Linked DNA regions of Homo sapiens. The protein of the gene in region 1 purifies or fractionates together with the protein of each later gene. This does not show direct contact. Each region holds a gene or a part of one and is shown on either strand. Other genes may lie near its edges.

Region 1 (3,655 bases):
TTTCATTTTGAATTATAGCATCTCTGAATTTACATATCCAATAAAAATGACTTGATTTTTTAATGTCAATTTTCTTCGGTAGCAAATGCCTATTATTATTGCTGGAAATGATCAACAAAAGAAGAAGTATTTGGGGAGAATGACTGAGGAGCCATTGATGTGTGTGAGTATGTGTAACTGCCGCTTTATTTCACACTTAAGAAGGGAACAAAGGTGCTATTTCTCCTTTTCAGTCTATATGTATATATTGGGATATTTAGCATTGAAACAAAACTTAGCAACATATTATTACAATGATGTGTCAAGGATGCCAAGAAAGTATCATAATAGGCCGAGGGCAATGGCTCGCACCTGTAATCCCAGCACTTTGGGAGGCGGAGGCGGGCAGATTACTTGAGGTTAGGAGTTCACAGCCTGGCTAACGTGGTGAAACCCCATCTCTACTGAAAATACAAAAATTAACCAGGCGTGATGGCGCCTGCCTATAATCCCAGCTGCTCAGGAGGCTGAGGCATAAGAATCGCTTGAACCCGAAAAGTGGAAGATGCAGTGAGCAGAGATCACACCACTGCACTGCTACCTGGGCGACAGAGTGAGTGAGACCCTGTCTCAAAAAAAAAAAAAAAAAAAAGGTGTCATCATAATTTTGTTGCTTATTTCCAGGAGAAGAGAGATCTACTTGTGATGTTTTTGGGATGTCAAAAAGTGTCATAATAATCCTCTTACTTCAGGAGAGAGAGCTCTATTTAGTGGAGCATTCTACACTTTAAGAACTGAGTCATTGTGTCAGGAAGTTCAGATTGAATGTAGGGCAATGTGTGTTTGAACTAGTAGTGTTTTGAATTAGTAAAAAATTAATGTTGGCTGGTCGTGGTGGCTCACGCCTGTAATCCCAGCACTTTGAGAGTCTGAGGCAGGTGGATCACCTGAGGTTAGGAGTTCGAGACCAGCCTAGCCAAAATGGAGAAACCCCATCTCTACTAAAAATACAAAAATTAGCTGGATGTGGTGGCGCTTGCCAGCTACTTGGGAGGCTGAGGCATGAGAATCTCTTGAACCTGGGAGGCAGAGGTTGCTGAGTAAAGATGGCGGCACTGCACTCCAGCCTGGGCAACAGAGTGAGACTCTGTCTCAAAAAAAAAAAAAAGCAATTAATGTGGGCTGGGCATAGTGGCTCACACCTGTAATGTCAGCACTTTGAGAGGCTAAGGCAGGAGAACTGCTTGAGCCCGGGAGTTCAAGACCAGCCTGGGTAACACAGTGAGACCCTGTCTCTAAATAAATAAATAAATGAATAAATAAATAAAAATTAATGTGAACCTGTAACTGAAGAAATAGCAACTTATTTGTTGAATGACTGAATGACTTGGGAAGAATAGTTGTAGAGTTTATTTAAACCTCTGAAAGCAACTCAACAAATTTTTAAATTAGATTTTTTTAACAAGATAAATACACACACAGACATACACACACACACACACACACACACACACACACGCTCTATTCTGAAACTGTTGTTTACCTAAGGATTTTTACTTCTTGTTTACTCAAACATATTTCAATCTAAGGTGTGGTTGTTATACTGAAATACAGTAGATGTATTAGTTTTGAGCTAATGATGAGAATTCATCTTAAAGAACAGAAAATAATATTTGAAAATAAATGTTTTTTATTTCAGATACCTAAAATTTCAAGCAAACTGTTTAATAAAGGAATTTGTACATATTTGCTAGGAAATTTGCAATTTTTTTTAACAATTGAGAGGTTAGCTAAACATTCTCACTATTGTCTATAAGAACTGTGTGAAACGTCTAGATTGTTCTCCTGTAGCATATACAGTCAGCTCTCCATATCCATGAGGGAATAGTTTAGGACAGGTTGCCCTCCATATCAAAATTTTTGGTTGCCAAGTCTGTTATACAAAATGTACAGTTAGCCCTTTGTATCTGTGGGTTTTGCTCCACAGTTGGTTAAATTCCAAAATTCGTGGATGCCAAAGGCAAACTTTTAAAAAATTAAAATTTTATAACTTTTCTAATTATAAAATACTGAGTATAGAAAATTTAGAAATGTTTTAAGTAGAACAAAAATATCTGTAATCCCTCAGATATGGAGTTAATTAGTATTACTTCCTTATTGTAGTGCCTACCACATTTTTAAATATGTAATTGTGTTTTTAACAGTTAGCCCCCATTATATACATGTAGTTTTATGTACATCTTTATTTAACAACATGAACATTTTCTTATGCCTTCCTTCTTTTTACATGCTGTAACAATACTGCATAATTTGCTATCTAATGGATATGCTATAAATTGTTTCACTTTTCTGTACTGTTGAATGTTTAAACTCCTTGGGTTTTTACTTTGGAAAATAATGTTATGGTAAAAAATAATACAGAAAAAAAATAAATAAAAATGATCAAATAAGAAGCCAAGAACAGGCCAGGCATGGTGGCTCATGCCTGTAATCTTAACACTTTGGGAAGCCAAGGCAGGAGGATCGCTTGAGGCCAGGAGTTCAAGACCAGCCTGGACAACGTTGAGAGACTGCCACCACACACACACACAAATATATATATATATATATATATATATATATATATATATATATATATATGAAACCAAAAAGAAGAAAAGAAGACAAAAACAACTCTGAGGAACCAGTAGTGACAAGCCATTTTGTATAGAAAAAAACAGGCTCATTTACTTCACAGGCTCTAAAAACTTCACTGTATTATGAAACAGACAGATGTCTAATAGCATATTTCAGGGAAAAAAATACCTTAAAGGTGGTTAAAACAAAATTTTGGTACTTAAAAGGGGCATCTTTTATGGACAACTCCTTAATTTGTCATGATGCTGAATACATCAAATCTCCAGGTAGCAGAGTAATCTAGTTCAGTTAACTTGAGTGACACCTGAATCCCCTCTACAGAATCCCTGTCAAAAGACCATCTGGCTGACATGTTTTTATACCTCAGGTGCCTGGGAATCAACACCTTCTGAAACAGCATCATTTGCGAGCATCTGTTATCATTAGAAAAATATTTTGGATTACATAATGCTTAAGCACAGAACCTGTCATTTTTTTTTTTATAATTTTACCAGTTCATACTGTAATAGGTGTTCAATAAATGTTAGAGTGATTTCACTGTACTTTTCTTTGGCTATATTGCCCTTCAGATGTTTGAGTATAGTTATATTTATTTATTTATTTATTTTTTGAGACGGAGTCTCGCTCTGTTGCCCAGGTCGGAGTGCAGTGGTGTGATCTTGGCCCACTGCAACCTCTGCCTCCCAGGTTCAAGCGATTCTCCTGCCTCAGCCTCCCAAGCAGCTGGGACTACAGGTGCGTGCCACCACGCCTGCCTAATTTTTTGTATGTTTAGTAGAGACAAGATTTCACTGTGTTAGCCAGGATGGTCTCTATCTCCTGACCTCATGATCTGCCCACCTTGGCCTCCCAATGTGCTGGAATTACAGGTGTGAGCCACCATGCCCAGCCAAGTATTGTTATTATTTTTTTTTTCTGAAATGGAGTCTCGCTCTGTTGCCTAGGCTGGAGTGCAGTGGCACCATCTCGGCTCACTGCAACCTCCACCTCCCAGGTTCAAGCAATTCTTCCTCAGCCTCCCAAGTAGCTGGGATTACAG
Region 2 (3,655 bases), on another chromosome or scaffold:
GTATGTCATGTCAGAAAACAGATAAACGAAAGATAAGTCAAGGGTTGCCAAAATCCCAGTTTATAGTTGTAAATTCCTGAGGTTTTAAAGCACAGCTACAGGCTAACTGCCCAAAGACCTGCTACCCACTGACTTTTGTGAAGGACTTGAGTTAATGGCAGGGCATGTCAATATACTACAGGCAGCTAATGGTGCAACTTTTTGACAAAAGAACTGGATCTGGTTACAGGCTGTTCCTATTATCACTGCAGTCTAGATTTATGGTTTCTAACACCGGCCCTACAAGAAATAATGGAAATGATGACAACAACAATCCCCACTAGACAACAGACTGCAGAAAAGCATGCAATAAACCACAATCTGAAGAAACCAGAAAACTAAACATCCTTGAAAATACCTCAAACATGAGGCAGGTGTCAGCAAATTACCCATTCAAATATTTCTACAACTTCTCAAATTTCAACACAAAAAAAATCTCAAATCAGAGTCTCTAAAGTAATCTAAAACCAAACAATATCTAAATATACTTACTATTGCCTACTATATATTAATTCTTTTAATGACCAAAGATGCCGTGTTTCATTTGAACAGATTTATGAAACTCTATCAAGTTAGTTAAAAATTAATACTGACTATATTGCTTTTCAAATAACATTAAAGAGAAAAATACTCCAAATAACATTTTAAAAAATATTTCCAAAGAAAAAAAAGCAACAGTTCATAGCAAAGGGCACATGTTTCCAAATGTATTCAAAGAGGAAGAGAACTGAAAAGAAGAAACACATTTGATTCAGCATTTAAAAATAAATATATAATCAAACCTTAAACCAGCTAAAACTGATGAAAGGTAGGAAAAGTGGCCAAATGTTAACCAAAAAAAACAAGCACTTTGTCAATACACTTAAAAAACTATGTCAAGGCTATAAGGTACATACCAAACAAATGGAGCTGTTTGTCTATAATTCGCCACCAGTTAATCTTTATGAGAAACAGAGGTTGCGAAAAATCAAATGTGTATTCTAAACACAACCAAAGAGAGCCCCGCAAACTTTTCTCTGAGAAATGAAAGCATCTTCAAGGTATGCCCTAGAATTGTAATATATCTGTCCCTTCTGAAGTTTACAACAGTACGTTACCACTAAAAGTGGGCACTCTCTTTCCCCTCTTAAAACAATTTGCTCCTATAAACTTAGGAAGAGGCAGAGCCATAGCCATAAACACAGGTCACAAGTAGTAGGTAATCAAATGCTATCTTCAGTTTCCCAGGTCTTTACTCACAGCTTATTCTATAAGTTTTAACTCTTCAAATAAGGAATTCATGTAGTCTAGGTCAAATGATCATGATATTAAGATGAACAGCACCATCATATTCACTGCTACAGGATCCTCAAATATTTCACTTTTCACACAATAAGATATCTCCATTGCTTATGTTAACACCTCTCCAGGCTGGGCGTGGTGGCTCACGCCTGTAATCCCAGCACTTTGGGAGGCCAAGGCAGGTGGATCACTTGAGGTTAGAAGTTTGAGACCAGCCTGAACAACATGGTGAAACCCCGTCCCTACTAAAATTATTTTTTAAAAAATTAGCTGGGCATGGTTGCGCACGCCTGTAATCCCAGCTCCCCAGGAGGCTGAGGCAAGAGAATCACTTGAACCTCGGAGGTGGGGGTTGCAGTGAGCCAGGATTGTGCCACTGCACTACAGCCTGGGCAACAGAGCGAGACTCCGTCTCAAAAAAAAACAAACAAAAAAAAACCCAGTATTATTTCTAAGGTTGCCAAGGTAACCCTAGAAATAGACAACATAATGACAAAATAAACAAAATCGCCTTTCTCATGAAAACCAAAGAACACATACACATTTCAAATCTTGATAGCTTCTAAAATTTTTTCAAGTTATTTTTAAGAACCACCATTGGCAGGGCGAGGTGGCTCACGCCTGTAATCCCAGAACTTCAGGAAGCCAAGGCAGGAGGATCACTTGAGGCCAGGAATTCGAGAACAGCCTGGCCAACATGGTGAAACCCCATCTCTACTAAAAATACAAAAATTATGAAAAATACAAAAATTAGTGGGCATGGTGATGCACGCCTGTAATCCCAGCTACTCAGGGGCTGAGGCACAAGAATTGCTTGAACCCAGGAGGCAGAGGCTGTAGTGAGCCAAGATCACACCACCGCACTCCAGCCTGGGCAACAGACAGAGCAAGACTCTCAAAAAAAACAAAGGCCAGATTCGGTGGCTCATGCCTGTAATCCCAGCACTTGGAGAGGCAGCAGAAGTGGATGGATTACCTGAGGTCAGGAGTTTGAGACCAGCCTGGCCAACATGGTAAAACCCCATCTCTACTAAAAATACAAAAATTAGCCAGGCTCGGTGGCGCACGCCTGTAGTCCCAGCTACTTGGGAGGCTGAGGCAGGAGAATCACTTGAACCTGGGAGGCAGAGGTTGCAGTGAGCTGAGATCGTGCCACTCTACTCCAGCCTGGGTGACAAAACGAGACTCCATCTCGGAAAAAAAAAAAAAAAAAATTAGCTGGGTGTGGCGGTACATGCCTGTAGTCCCAGCAACTGGGAAGGCTGAGGCAGGAGAATTGCTTGAAGCCAGGAGGCAGAGGTTGCAATGAGCCGAGATTGCACCTGCACTCCAGCCTGGGTAACAGAGCAAGACTCCGTATCAAAAAAAGAACTACCACAAACTCTTTTTATAAATGGTAACCAAAGCCTAAGGTACTTAGAGTCTAAAAAATGTACTTACCACTAAATTATACCAGTATTTATATAATGGTATAAATTATGCCATTTTAATCTAAGATAAACGCCAGTGGTTTCTTTTATCTATTTCCCCAAGACAAAGAGATCCTGAATATTAAGCCCCAAAGCCAGGGAAGGGTATAAACTCTTCCTTCAAAATTACCAACACGGCCGGGCGTGGTGGCTCACACCTGTAATCCCAGCACTTTGGGAGGCCAAGGCAGGAGGATCACCTGAGGTCAGGAGTTTTGAGACCAGCCTGGCCAACTAGGTGAAACCCCGTCTCTACTAAAAATGCAAAAATTAGCTGGGCATGGTGGCACACCCCTGTAATCCTAACTACTCAGGAGGCTGAGGTGGGAAAATTGCTTGAACGCAGGAAGCAGAAGCTGCAGTGGGCTGAGATCACGCCACTGCACTACAGCCTGGGCAACACAGCGAGAGCCCATCTCAAAAAAAAAAAAACATCACCAACATTTGCCATTTTCAAAATGTCCAGGTTTTTAGTTCCTGGAATCAACAATCAGTTCAAATTCTAAGGTATTATGTAGTAATTCTCAGACATTAATAATGGTTCTAAAATTATTAGGGATGCTTGATTTGCCCACTGCAAACTACAAAACACCTTCTGGCAATGACAGACTAATCTTTGCACCACAGCTCATAGCTCTAAGGCTGATAGCTGGCAGAGCCCACTTTGTTCTTGTATATCCTAAAAATCAGGAATATGACTATGAGGAGACAGTGAGACCTACCCTCCCCACCCCGAGAGGGTAGCTAATAGAGAGGACCTCCGATTTCCATTCACAAGTGGAATGAGAATAGAGGGAGAAAAATGGCAGACAGAATAACCAGGCAAAAAAAAAAAAAAGACTAGAGGTGACTAATAAGGCAAACAG
Region 3 (3,655 bases), on another chromosome or scaffold:
GCCACCCTGTCTGGGAAGTGAGGAGCGTCTCCGCCCGGCAACCACGCCATCCGGGAGGGAGGTGGGGGTCAGCCCCCACCAGGCCAGCCGCCCCGTCCGGGAGGGAGGTGGGGGTCAGCCCCCGGCCGGCCAGCCACCCCGTCTGGGAGGGAGGTGGGGGGTCAGCCCCCCGCCCGGCCAGCCGCCCCGTCCGGGAGGTGGGGGGGTCAGCCCCCCGCCCGGCCAGCCGCCCCGTCCGGGAGGGAGGGAGGTGGGGGGGTCAGCCCCCCGCCCGGCCAGCCGCCCCGTCCGGGAGGTGAGGGGCGCCTCTGCCCGGCTGCCCCTACTGGGAAGTGAGGAGCCCCTCTGCCCGGCCACCACCCCGTCTGGGAGGTGTGCCCAGCAGCTCATGGAGAACGGGCCATGATGACCGTGGCGGTTTTGTGGAGTAGAAAGGGGGGAAAGGTGGGGAAGGGATTGAGAAATCGGATGGTTGCCGTGTCTGTGTGGAAAGAAGTAGACATGGGAGACTTTTCATTTTGTTTTGTACTAAGAAAAATTCTTCTGCCTTGGGATCCTGTTGATCTGTGACCTTACCCCCAACCCCGTGCTCTCTGAAACATGTGCTGTGTCCACTCAAGGTTAAATGGATTAAGGGCGGTGCAAGATGTGCTTTGTTAAACAGATGCTTGAAAGGCAGCATGCTTGTTAAGAGTCATCACCACTCCCTAATCTCAAGTACCCAGGGACACAAACACTGCAGAAGGCCGCAGGGTCCTCTGCCTAGGAAAACCAGAGACCTTTGTTCACTTGTTTGTCTGCTGACCTTCCCTCCACTATTGTCCTGTGGGCCAAATCCCCCTCTGCGAGAAACACCCAAGAATGATCAATAAAAAAAAAAAAAAAAAAATCCACAGCTATCATCATATGTAAAGTTGAAAGGCCAGATGCTTTCCCCCTATAATCAGGAATAAGACAAAGATATCCATTTCTTATAACTTCTATTCAACATTGGAGATTCTAGCCAGGGCAATTAGGGAAGAAAAAGAAATAAAAAGAATCCACATTGGATTTCATTGTTTCCTATGAAATAAGTAAAACTCATTTATTCCAAGTGATATTTAATAATATAAAACTCAATTAGAAAAGCAGCTTTGTGGTATTTGTCAAATGTTATTCGAAGCATATTCTGTTCTCTCTTAACCATAAAGGCCTAACCCCAAATATTTATGTTAAGCACTTAACATCCTTACAAGAAAACTCTATCTTGGCCTGACAGAAAACTTAACACAAGAAAAACTGTCTTTAGGAACAGAGGCACAAACACAATGAAACTGATACTATTTATAGTGACTTTGTGTTATAAAGTTTGAGAGAATACATGCTGGGAAAAAAATATTTTTCCTTCAAAATTCTAGAAAACGCAAAAAACGGAAGTATCCAATTTCTATTCAATCTGTTCTAATGCCTTCTTAGGTCAGAGGTAAAAGTTACAAAATAAAATAAAAAGAACAAAAGACAATATTGAGAATTCTTTATGAAAATATTTTAGGTTCAACAGACATAACTGCCAAAGGAAAAAAGTCACTGCTTTTTCTGGATGTGAAGATACACAACGGCAAGATGAACAGCATCAAGTTCAAATGCAAGGCCTAGTGACTTCTGTGTCCATTGTCATTCTCTTTCCTTTAGCAATGATCACATCATTGACATCTTTAAATATATGTATCATATATATATTTGTGTGTGTATATATGATACATAAGATATATCACAGAAACTGATCATATATATATATATATATATATATATATATCTTATCTTTTTCATTAGATTATTACCTCCTTTTGGTCCACCTTGGGTGCCATAGCACCTATAATAGCCTCTAACTAGGTATCCAACAAATGTTTGTATACTTTAAAGGAATTCTGAATTTTCAATTACCTGCATATGAATGATTGATTTTGTACATCACACATAGCAAGACAGAGGGTAAGGAAGCATCTTATTTCTTACAACAAACACTGATCAAGCTCCTACAATGTGTAAGAAAATTAGGGGAGGTGTGCTGTAATGGCTTGGGTTTACTAAGGTGGCATATAGAGAAGATCAATTAACTTCAAGTAAGCCAAGGAAGTCAATCTGCTATTTAGGAAGCACTGAAATGCATCCCAAGTCAGACATACAGTTTCTAGAACATATGATGCTTTGAATTATGCATGCTGTTGATTCTGGAGTCACAGAATTACTCAAATTACAAACGTATAAAGTCTGTAACTATTGGCTGGGAGTGGTGGCTCACGCCTGTCATCCCAGCACTTTGGGGGGCCGAGACAGGAGAATCACGAGGTCAAGAGATCGAGACCATCCTGGCCAATGTGGTAAAACCCTGTCTCTATTAAAAACACAAAAATTAGCTGGGCTTGGTGGCACACGCCTGTAATCCCAGCTACTCGGGAGGCTGAGGCAGGAGAATTGCTTGAACCCGGGAGGCGGAAGTTGCAGCGAGCCAAGATCGCACCACCATACTCCAGCCTGGCGGCAGAGCGAGACTCCATCTCAAAAAAAAAAAAAAAAAGTCTATAACTATTATTAACTTGTTTACCATTATGATATGTTAAAGGAATTATTTTTAGAAACTGATCAAAGAAGCAATAGGAGTGAACACCTTCCTTTACTCTACTAACCTGCAGGACATTGCCCATAATCACACTGTCAACTGTTTCAGGTGAGACTTTGCCAGCAGACAAGGCAGCCTTGGCAGCAAATTCAGACAAGTCAGTAGCAGTGAAGTCTTTCAGAAGGCCTCCGTAAGCTCCAAAGGGCGTTCGCTTAGCAGCAACTACAAACACACCTATTGCAACAAGAAGAGATTTGTAAGCCATCACAGGTTAGTAAATACCTCTAAATGCTTCGAATAATCTCACTGTGAAACCTTACACAATTTAAAATTAGATAATGGAAATTTCTGTTAGGCAATAATACCTAGAACAAGTCATACCCATGGAAGCAGAGTCTTAAGGACTACCAGTTTGACAGTTTGATCTTTACCTACATGCAGGTACCAAGAACTGCACTGCATGCTGTTAAGGAAGAAGACCACCACTTCTCCTGCGCACCCCGCCCCCCTTGCCTAGTTTATAAAACAGGAGGAAAAGAAAAAAGCAAAAAGTTAAAAAGAAACAGAAGTAAGATAAATAGCCAGATGGCCTGGTGCCACCACCCGGCCCTGGTAGTTAAAATAATAATAATAATAATAATAATAATAATAATAATAATAATATCAATCCCTGACCTAAACTACTTGTGTTATCTGTAATTTCCAGACATTGTATGAAAAAGCATTGCAAAACTTTCTGCTCTGTAAGCTAATGCATGTAGCCCCCAGTCACGTTCCCCACACTTGCTTGATCTATCACCATCCTTTCAGGTGGACCCCTTAGAGTTGTAAGCCCTTAAAAGGGCCAAGAATTTCTTTTTGAGGGAGCTCGGCTCTTAAGACGCAAGTTGGTGGATGCTCCAAGCCAAATAAAGCCTCTTCCTTCTTTAATCCAGTGTCTGAGGAGTTTTGACTGTGGCTCGTCCTGCTACACTGTGATGTAAAGCCATTCTGGTTAGACAACTTTCTTGTTCTCTGATGCTTCACAATGCTAGAAACATATGTTGAGAACTAAAA

Evidence for each region.
Region 2: the proteins of ACADM (region 1) and SCML2 fractionate together in Homo sapiens (co-fractionation; one large-scale study listed by BioGRID). This does not show direct contact.
Region 3: the proteins of ACADM (region 1) and ACAA2 fractionate together in Homo sapiens (co-fractionation; one large-scale study listed by BioGRID). This does not show direct contact.

The regions. Positions count from the first base shown.
Region 1 is NC_000001.11:75,734,709-75,738,363, forward strand, and holds part of ACADM (medium-chain specific acyl-CoA dehydrogenase, mitochondrial isoform a precursor), read left to right. Parts: intron 1-82; coding exon 83-163; intron 164-3,655. UniProt on the Homo sapiens protein: Medium-chain specific acyl-CoA dehydrogenase is one of the acyl-CoA dehydrogenases that catalyze the first step of mitochondrial fatty acid beta-oxidation, an aerobic process breaking down fatty acids into acetyl-CoA and allowing the production of energy from fats.
Region 2 is NC_000023.11:18,348,062-18,351,716, forward strand, and holds part of SCML2 (sex comb on midleg-like protein 2), read right to left. Parts: intron 1-3,655. UniProt on the Homo sapiens protein: Putative Polycomb group (PcG) protein. PcG proteins act by forming multiprotein complexes, which are required to maintain the transcriptionally repressive state of homeotic genes throughout development.
Region 3 is NC_000018.10:49,800,021-49,803,675, forward strand, and holds part of ACAA2 (3-ketoacyl-CoA thiolase, mitochondrial), read right to left. Parts: intron 2,834-3,655; coding exon 2,667-2,833; intron 1-2,666. UniProt on the Homo sapiens protein: In the production of energy from fats, this is one of the enzymes that catalyzes the last step of the mitochondrial beta-oxidation pathway, an aerobic process breaking down fatty acids into acetyl-CoA.